Regions from separate parts of the Homo sapiens genome. Here region 2 is linked to region 1. The links come from fine-mapping of genetic effects on gene expression. A gene starts in region 1. The other region holds a variant in brackets. All regions are shown on one strand. Distances are between the middles of the regions. Region 1 holds the start of LASP1 (LIM and SH3 protein 1). Region 2 overlaps LASP1 (LIM and SH3 protein 1).

Region 1 (4,377 bases):
TGAAGCTGCCTATGGGACTGAAGGTTTCCCCTCCTCCCTGGTCACAGCCCAGCATCCTCCAGGCACTGGCTCCCCATTCCTGGTCCTATCCTTACTGCCTGGAGCAGGTGGAGAGGAATAGGTCTGATACCTGGATATTTCAGGTCTCCTGCTCAGTACAGGGGGCGAGGTCTCTCCAGGGCCACTTCCTATAGGGAGAGTTCTAAAAAGAGGAAGGAATCACCAACTCCCACTTCCCTGGGCAACCCCCACTTGAACGTCCTCTTCCAGCTAGGGTAAGAGAACTGGGGAGGGCACCCTGCCCATCCCTGCTCCCCTCCCCTCGGGTACACGGCACTGAAGGTCTTTCCAAGGGGAGTGGTGTGGAGCTGAACAGAGCATCCCAGAGAGGTAGGGAGGGCATAGTCTATACAGCACCCTCTTTAGCACTCAGGGACTTTAGTGCACTGCCCCACCTTTAAGGAAATGACATCATCATACCCATCTGACAGATGGTGAATACTGAGGCCTAGAGACATTCATAAAACTGGTGGGAGCAGACCTGGAACAAGGACCCAGTTTCCCAACTCCTGGAGTGGCAATCCTGCCTTCATGTTTTGCTTTTTCCTTATACGGGTCAAGTGCCCACTGCCTCTTCCCAATTCATGACTGTGGAGAAGAAGGGGACCACAGGGAACTCAAGATGCAGAGGCCAAAATCTCTGCCACGAGGGGCGGGCGAAACCCCAGTGTGCAAGGACAGGTACATTCTCAAGGGGAGACTTCATTATCTGATAGCTCTAAGCTCAAGTCCTGCCCAACAGCGGCTGGCATGGTCATGGGGAGATCAACAACTTTCCTCGTGCCCACAATATACCCCCTCCTCTCCTCCTGCCCAGTCAAGCCCAGGACCAGGAGGAACAGTGACACAGCAGCGGCCCCATATGCCCACACTCCCCAAGAGCAAGTTCAAATATCTTTCAGAACCTCCAACCCCACCTCCTCACGCTGACTCAGAGGCCAAAGGTCACTGAGGAAGCTCACACACCAAGGGGGAGGGGAGAGATAAGGTGTCCAATAAACTATCCTCTCCTGAACAAAACCTGGCTCCAGGTCAGTAATGAACTTGGCCCCAGGGCTCTATACCCCTCTTTCATCTAGTGTTCCCACCCTTGCACCTCTCTTCCATCCAGTCCTCCCAGCCCTCCCAGTTCAGATGGAAAGGACAGAATACTTGGACTTGGAGCCAGCTTTGGGTGGTGGATGAAAGACGCGGTGAGGAAGGGCACAAAATCACAGAGGCCTCCCCTCCAGACTGGGGAGGGGATGCAGAGGGGCAGGTTTTACCTTAGGATCTTACGGAGCTTACAAGAGAACAGGATCCTACCCTAAACTGTACGGGAAACACCCAGTTCTACTCTCCAACCCCCCTCCAAAAGTCTAATGGCAACCAGATGAACAAGTCCAGCATTGGGGAGACAGGGCCCCCAGGGGACACTGAATCTCCACAAGGCCACCCTCCCCTCCCCCCAATACCTCCCCCTTTCCTCGGCTTCCCCAGAACTCAGCCAACCCCACCCTCCATTGGAGAAACCTGCTTTGAAAAGTTAGCTCTTTGTTCTTCCACACGGTCTCCTGGCTCTGAGCACAATTTCAGGAGATCTCAGCTAAGCACCCTCCACCCACCCTACTCTGCCACCCAACCCCACCCGGCTCAGGCTGGACGGCCCAGCACCGGGAGTTGGCTTTTAATTGGAGGTGGGGGTTGGGAAGCTGTGGAGGAGGTCTGCGAGTCCTTTAACGACTGAATCCAAGGGGGTGCAGGTCGTTCAAAAACGGGGCTCTTGCGGCAGAGCCCGGGTCCTTACCCAAAACCCCCCGCATCAGATGCCACACACTCGCAGGCTGATAGCCCCCGCCCCGCCAGGCCAGGAAGCCAGGCCACCCCCGCCGGAGCGGACGGTTTTGCAGGGCCCCCCAGCCTCTGCCCCGCCCCCCCGCCCCCTCCACCAGCGCCCCGCGCTTCCGCCTACTTGGCGCTCGGCGCAGAGCGGAGAGGGAGCGGCCGTCTCTTCTCACTCTCCAGGCCGTAGGGGGCGGGACTGCACCCCTAACCTTCCCCCAACACACCCCGGCGCCTGACTTCCCTGCTCCTCTCCCGTCCTCCCAACCCCGGGACACAGAGCCCACCCCTCTCCAGCAGCGGCTGCCCGCTACGCGTGGACTTCCCGCCTCGCCCCAGATCTCCTGGTTTTCAGACTGGGATGTGTCCCCACACCCCATGACACCGCCCGCTCGCCCTCCCTCCATTCTCCTGGGATCGCGGGGATAAGGCGGCAAAGACCCGGCCCTTCTCTCCTCCCTGGATTCGGAGCACTGCGGGGGATTGCAAAGACGCGTCTCCCGGTCCCGGGCTCACCTTATCCAGACAGTTCACCTTCTCCGTGGGATACACGATCTTGCCGCACCGGGCGCAGTTGGGGTTCATGGTTCCGAGAAAAGCTGGGGCGGGGACGCCTGAGCTCACGCGCGTCCTGTTCCCCGAGGCGAGCTGGCGGGAGGCGGCCGCGGCTGCAACTACACAGGCAGCAGCGACGGCGGCTGGAGCTGGGGAACTGGCCTCCGCCTCCGCCCTCCTTCCCCTAATAAACACAGCGGGGAGGAGGGGCTGCACTGGGGCGGGCACGCGCCTCGGGCGCGGGCAAGGGCACGCGCAGCGAGGCGCGCTCTCCGGGCGACGTGGGGCTGCGCGGGGGCGGGTTCCTGGGGGGACGGCGGGGCCCGCGGTGCTGGCGCCTCAGCGCTCTCAGGCTGACTGCGCCCGGTGCCCAGGGCCCTTCCCCAGCCGGAGGCGGCGCAGAGGCGAGCAGGCTGCACATCTGGGGCGCCCGGGCTGCGGGAGGCGGGCTAACCCCTCAAGCCCGTCGAGGGTGGGGTTGGATCCTCCTGAACGCTGGAACTGATTCACCGCATTCGGGGACTTTCTACCCGGCATGAATCTGCGGACCGAACGGGGACCCCCTACCCTGCCCCTCTTAGCTCTCTTCCGGCCCACACCCTTTCCCACATTTGTGGGGCGGAACCCGTCCCTCCCTCTTGGACCCTGCGCGCTGCCGGGCCCGGGCTAGTGCTTCCCTCTCGAGCCCCTGCAGTGCACCTTCCCGGGGTTCCCCGGATGCGGGCACCGTCTGCGTTCAGCTTGACCCCTTTTTCTCCAGCATTCCTTTCTCCTTCTGTTACACCACTACTCACAGTGTAGCAGCTGCAACAATGCTTAGCACCCAAGGAGCCGCCTCCAGGCGCTGTAGAGGCGCGGGGGTATAGCTCAGTGGTAGAGCATTTGACTGCAGATCAAGAGGTCCCTGGTTCAAATCCGGGTGCCCCCTCAATGGCTTGGTTTTTCCTTCCCCTTGTTAACCATCTGTTTTTCATTCTTGACTCACATTTTAACATTGGGTCCTGACTAAAAAAAAAAAAAAAAAGAAAAGAAAAAGTATCTTCCTCATTTTTCAACCTTAGCAGAAATCTTTCGGTTTTACTTTGTGCTCAGCGGGAGGAGGGGGTGGGTATAAAAGCTGCGCGACCGCATTACTCGCGCCAGAGGTGTAGGGATTTCTGCGGCCACGGGCGCCAGCCTCAGATGGGTCAGACAGTTCGAGGTGCCGGGTTTGAGGGACAGGATGTTTCCAATGGGGGTAGGGAGACAGGGGAACGCCTCAACTTGGCGTTCCTTTTGGGGGTGGAGGGTGGGTCAGGCGAGGGAAACCCATAGACACAGCCCTTCTCCAACTTCAACTTTCTGTATTAATGGTGACATGGACGTGCTGTGTTCATCCTTGACTATTAATGTACAAAAGTAAAGTTATAACCCAGTGCAAACTGAGATAAACGAACACAGTGTTTCTCAAATTTGAACGTGCATCAGAATTACCTGCAGGGCTTGTTAAAACACTGCTAGTTTCTGATTCTGTAAGGGGGCCCCGAGAATTTGCATTTCTACCAAGTTTCCAGGTGCCTCTGGTGCTGCTGGTGTGGGGACCACATTTTAAGAACCACTGAAGTAAGAATAAAAGGCCATGGAGTTTCATAACCTAAAGATGGGGACAAGTATCTGCTGGCTGCGTGCCTGACAGGGTCACTGTTGGGCCGGAGGAAAATGGTAAGTGTGACGGGAGACAAGGGCGTCCCCCTCGACTAGGTTTTGCCCAAAAAAAGGAAAAATAAAGGAGAAAGGAAGAGGCGTGCTGCCTGGGTCAAAGGGCAGCTGCGATATTTTAAACCCGGAATGTGGTTGTGTCATTCCTCGGACCCCGGGGAAACGCGCATTTTTTTCTCCTGGCTCCTATTACTGTGAGCTGTATCTCTAGGCTGAACAGAGAGATCACAGATCAGCAGAGCT
Region 2 (4,377 bases), 31 kb before region 1:
AGCCTGGGCAGCATAGCAAGACCCTCTCTCTACAAAAAAAATAACAATTAGCTGGGCATGGTGCTATATGCCTGTAGTACCAGCTACTCAGGAGGTTGACGGGAGAGGACCACTTGTGCCCAAGAGTTCGAGGCTGCAGTGACCTATGATCGTGCCACTGTACTCCAGCCTGGGCAATCTTGTCTCAAAAATAATAATGATGATAATAAGAGTGATATCATTTATCCCATGCCAAGCACTTGGCATGTTCCTTGCAACCACCTGTCAAAGTAGGGCCTACTGTCCCATTTTTACAAATGAGGAAACTGAGGCTCAAAGAGCCCTGCCTGGCCCCAGAATGACAGAAGCTAGGATCTGGGCCCTTACCATCTCTTCCTACCTCACTGTCTCACCACTTAGCAAGACTGAAGACAGACTGCACTTATCCAAAGCAGACACCCCAGAGGAGATCAGACACTTGTTTTTAAAATGCTCTGGCTGGTAAAAAGCCCTAGTCTGCAGCATATCCCTCCAAGGAAGCATATCCTCATTCTTTTGTAAGATGGCCTGACCTTTAGAAATAACTGGAGTCAGCTGGGCACAGTGGCTCACACCTGTAATCCCAGCACCTTGGGAGGCCAAGGCAGGTGGATCACCTGAGGTCAGGAGTTCGAGACCAGCCGAGCCAATATGGCAAAACCCTGTGTCTACTAAAAATACAAAAATTAGCCAGGCGTGGTGGCATGTGCCTATAGTCCTAGCTACTCAGAAGGCTGAGGCAGAAGAATCGCTTCAACCCGGGAGGCAGAGGTTGCAGTGAGCCAAGATCACGCCACTGCACTCCAGCCTGGGCGACAGAGCGAGACTCTATCTCAAAAATAAAATAAAACTAAAATTAAAAATAAATAAATAAAGTAACTGGAGTCATTTGGTGCTAATCTGGGAAGCAAAGCAACAAGCTACATACAGGAACAGGAATGCTATTTTGGATACAAAACAAAAGGTGTGGCTCTAAACACCCTATTTTCCAAAACACTTCAGGAGGTTGGGACAACTTAGCAATGGTTTTATGTGTGGTTTAAAGCTCCCAGGCGCAGTGGCTCATGCCTGTAGTAGTCCCAGAACTTTGGGAGGCCGAGGTGGGCGGATCACTTAAGTCCAGGAGTTTAAGACAACATAGTGAGACCCTGTCTCTGATTAAAAAAAAAAAAAAAAAAAAAAAGCTCCCCTGGGAGGCCAGGTGAGGTGGCTCACCCCTATAATCCCAGCACTTTAGGAGGCTGAGGCGGGAGGATAACTTGAATCCAGGAGTTTGAGACCAGCCTGGGCAACATAGCAAGATAGTGTCTCTGCAAAAAAAAGAAAAATTAGCTGGGCATGGTGGTGCACACCTGTGGTCCCAGCTACTCGGAGTCTGAGGTGGGAGAATGGCTTGATCCCAGAAGATTCAGGCTGCACTGAGCCGTGAACACACCACCGCACTCCAGCCCGGATGACGGAGCGAAACCCTGTCTCAAAAATAAAAATAGGCTGGGCTCGGTGTCTCACGCCTGTAATCCCAGCACTTTGGGAGGCCGAGGCGGGTGGATCACAAGGTCAGGAGATCAAGATCATCCTGGCTAACACGGCGAAACCCCATCTCTACTAAAAATACAAAAACTATTAGCCGGGCGTGGTGGCGGGCGCCTGTAGTCCCAGCTACTCACGAGGCTGAGGCAGCAGAATGGCGTGAACCCGGGAGGCGGAGGTTGCAGTGAGCCGAGATTGCGCCACTGCACTCCAGCCTGGGTGATAAACCAAGGCTCCGTCTCAAAAAAATAAAAATAAAAATAAAGCTCCCCTGGGGTTCTGAGGTACAGCCTGATCTGGCACCCTCTGACTTAGGGGTTGGTGAAGCTTTTTCAGACTTTTAGGTGGTGGCTCTCAAACTTCAGAGAGCACCACAGAAACCCAGGGAATGTGTCTAACATGCTGATTCCTGGGCCCCACTCCCAGAGACGCTGATTCTGGCAGCCAGGGGAGAAGGCCTGTGAGTCTGCATTTTCAGTCAACCCTACAGGTGACTGTGCTACAGCTGTCTGGAGGCCCATATCCGACAGACTGTAATTGCTTTCATTAAAACCAAGAGTCTCCAGGCTTTGCATTCACACCCTACAGGTCTCTGCTAAAGCTGCAAAAGCAGCTAGCAGGTCGGGGTCGATCCCTTCCCCCAGCTCCTGCAGAGGACCATTAGCTCACTGCAGCACCGCGAGAAGGGTAAAAGATGGTTATCTCCTGAGATGCGGATGGCTTGGCCAGGGTGGTGAGTTTTGTCACTAGGATATTAACAC[C/T]TCTAACTGGGGGAGGGAAGAAGAGGAGGTGGCTTAGGCTGAGTGTGGAGTGTTCTGGAAGCCTTCCAGAAAGGGAAGCAGGGATGACTGGGCTTGTCTCCCCTCCTCCAAAACCCACAGGGTGAAGCAATGAGTGAACAGCCAGGGAGCTGGGGTTGCACATTGGGAGCAAGTGTCACTGATAAAAGACTAGAGCCTCTACATGAAAAGCCGCAGAGGCTGAAGAGCCGACATTCCAGTTCTGTGAACCATTCCGGGTTTTCCCCATAATCTAAGACCATCTTCCCCCTCCCCCACTTTCCAAGCCGAGAGCTCTGAAACACAGACCTAAGGGTCTTACCCTTTGCAGGGTCTGAGCCAAAGGGAAGCTCCAGGGCGTGAGGCCAGGCCCTAGCATATAAAGAGTCAACTGTGACAGGCCTCTGGAAGTTGGAGGGGAAGGAGGATTAGAGTGCCCGCCCTAGGCATCCCCTGCTAGCCAAAGGGAAGCATGCCATTTCCTCAGGCCACCAACTTCAAACTGCAGGTCAACAGTCCAGTTGCAAAACCCATTCACAGTAAGTCTGCAACCAGCATCTTTTTGGTTTTTTTTTGAGATGGAGTCTTGCTCTGTCGCCAGGCTGGAGTGCAGTGGCCCGATCTCGACTCACTGCAACCTCTGCCTCCCGAGTTCAAGCGGTTCTTCTGTCTCAGCCTCCCAAGTAGCTGGGATTACAGGCACACGCCACCACGCCCAGCTAATTTTTGTATTTTTAGTAGAGATGGGGTTTCACCATGTTGGCCAGGATGGTCTCGATCTCTTGACCTCATGATCCGCCCACCTCAGCCTCTCAAAGTGCTGGGATTACAGGCATGAGCCACCGCGCCTGGTCCTTTTTTTTTTTGGAAACAGGGTCTCACTCGGTTTCCCAGGCTGGAATGCAGTGGTGCAATTACGGCTCACTATAACCTCAAACCTCTGGGCTCAGGTGATCCTCCCACTTCAGCCTCCTGAATAGCTAGGACCACAGGCGTGTGCTATCATGCCTGGCTAGTTTTTGTATTTTTTTTTTTTTTTTTTTTTTTTTGTAGAAACAGTTTTGCTATGTTGCCCAGGCTAGTCTCAAACTCCTGGGCTCAAGCAATCCTCCCACCTCAGTCTCCCAAAGTGTTGGGAATACAGTCCTCAAAGGGGCTGTATTATGTGAGGGTGTATAGGGGCCTGCAACCAGCATCTTTAGAAAAGATCTGAATGTGGCCGGGTGCGGTGGCTCACACCTGTAATCTTAGCACTTTGGGAGGCCAAGGCGGGCACATCACCTGAGGTCAGGTGTTCAAGACCAGCCTGGCCAACATGGTGAAACCCTGTCTCTACCAAAAATACAAAAATTGGCCGGGGGTGGTGGTGTGCACCTGTAATCCCAGCTACTCCACTTGGGAGGCTAAGGCAGGAGAATCACTTGAACCCTGGAGGCGGAGCACCACTGCACTCCAGCCTGAGCAACAGAGTGAGACTCTGTCTCAAAAAAAAAAAAAAAGATCTGAACGCCCTCTAAGTAGGAAGTACTCATTCATGAAAGCTTCCATTCTGTTTTCCCTCTACATAAATGTATGCCTGTCAGATGGGTCAAGACGTACAATGTATATTTTACTGTAGGCTGAAGTCAGAGTTTGAAAGCCACCATTTTGGGCATGGCTGGTTCTGCTGTCTGTGGGCTGCCTGTGCTTCTGAAATCCACCTGACCCACCACTGCAGCCCACTCTATGCACGGCCCAGCCAAGCTCTTAAAGGAGCGCCCTGCTGAGGTGGCCAGGTGGAGGGTAGGAAGGGATGTGGAGCCCAGGGAGTGGGTGCTGAGACCACCGGAAAGCCAGGCTCCCCCGGCAATCTCTATCCCCAGTTCCTCAGCCCAGAGCAACAATGGGCAGCTCACTGATCCCTTCCTGTTCCAGACACGAAGACAGCTGCCTGCCTAAACCCTCCCTGGCAGGACCTCCTAGGCCAGGCTGGCTGGGCAGCCCCTGCAGTTCTGTGTGCGCATCCCCCATGGTTGCTGCTCACCGCAGTGCCCTGCCCCCGCATGCCTAA

Evidence for each region. PIP is the estimated chance that this variant, and not a neighbour inherited with it, causes the effect.
Region 2: its variant is the best candidate, but not a certain one, in a credible set for the expression of LASP1 in monocytes (TOPMed, PIP 0.74).

What each region holds. Positions count from the first base shown.
Region 1 is chr17:38,868,279-38,872,655 of GRCh38, reverse strand. It overlaps LASP1 (LIM and SH3 protein 1), which reads right to left and starts at 2,598. Exons shown (of 7, transcript NM_006148.4): 1 at 2,398-2,598. The coding sequence starts at 2,466. It overlaps TRC-GCA4-1 (tRNA-Cys (anticodon GCA) 4-1), which reads left to right and starts at 3,293; the gene lies at 3,293-3,364. RefSeq lists enhancers at 735-1,336, 2,349-2,498, 3,989-4,168, 3,744-4,344, 4,345-4,377 and silencers at 1,939-2,038, 2,559-2,868, 4,289-4,377.
Region 2 is chr17:38,899,197-38,903,573 of GRCh38, reverse strand. All of the region lies in intron 4 of LASP1 (LIM and SH3 protein 1), which reads right to left. Among named protein-coding and RNA genes, the nearest start is that of MIR6779, 14 kb to the left of the region's middle. RefSeq lists enhancers at 1,585-2,210, 3,841-4,360, 4,361-4,377. The variant C/T (reference allele first, on the strand shown) is at 2,310.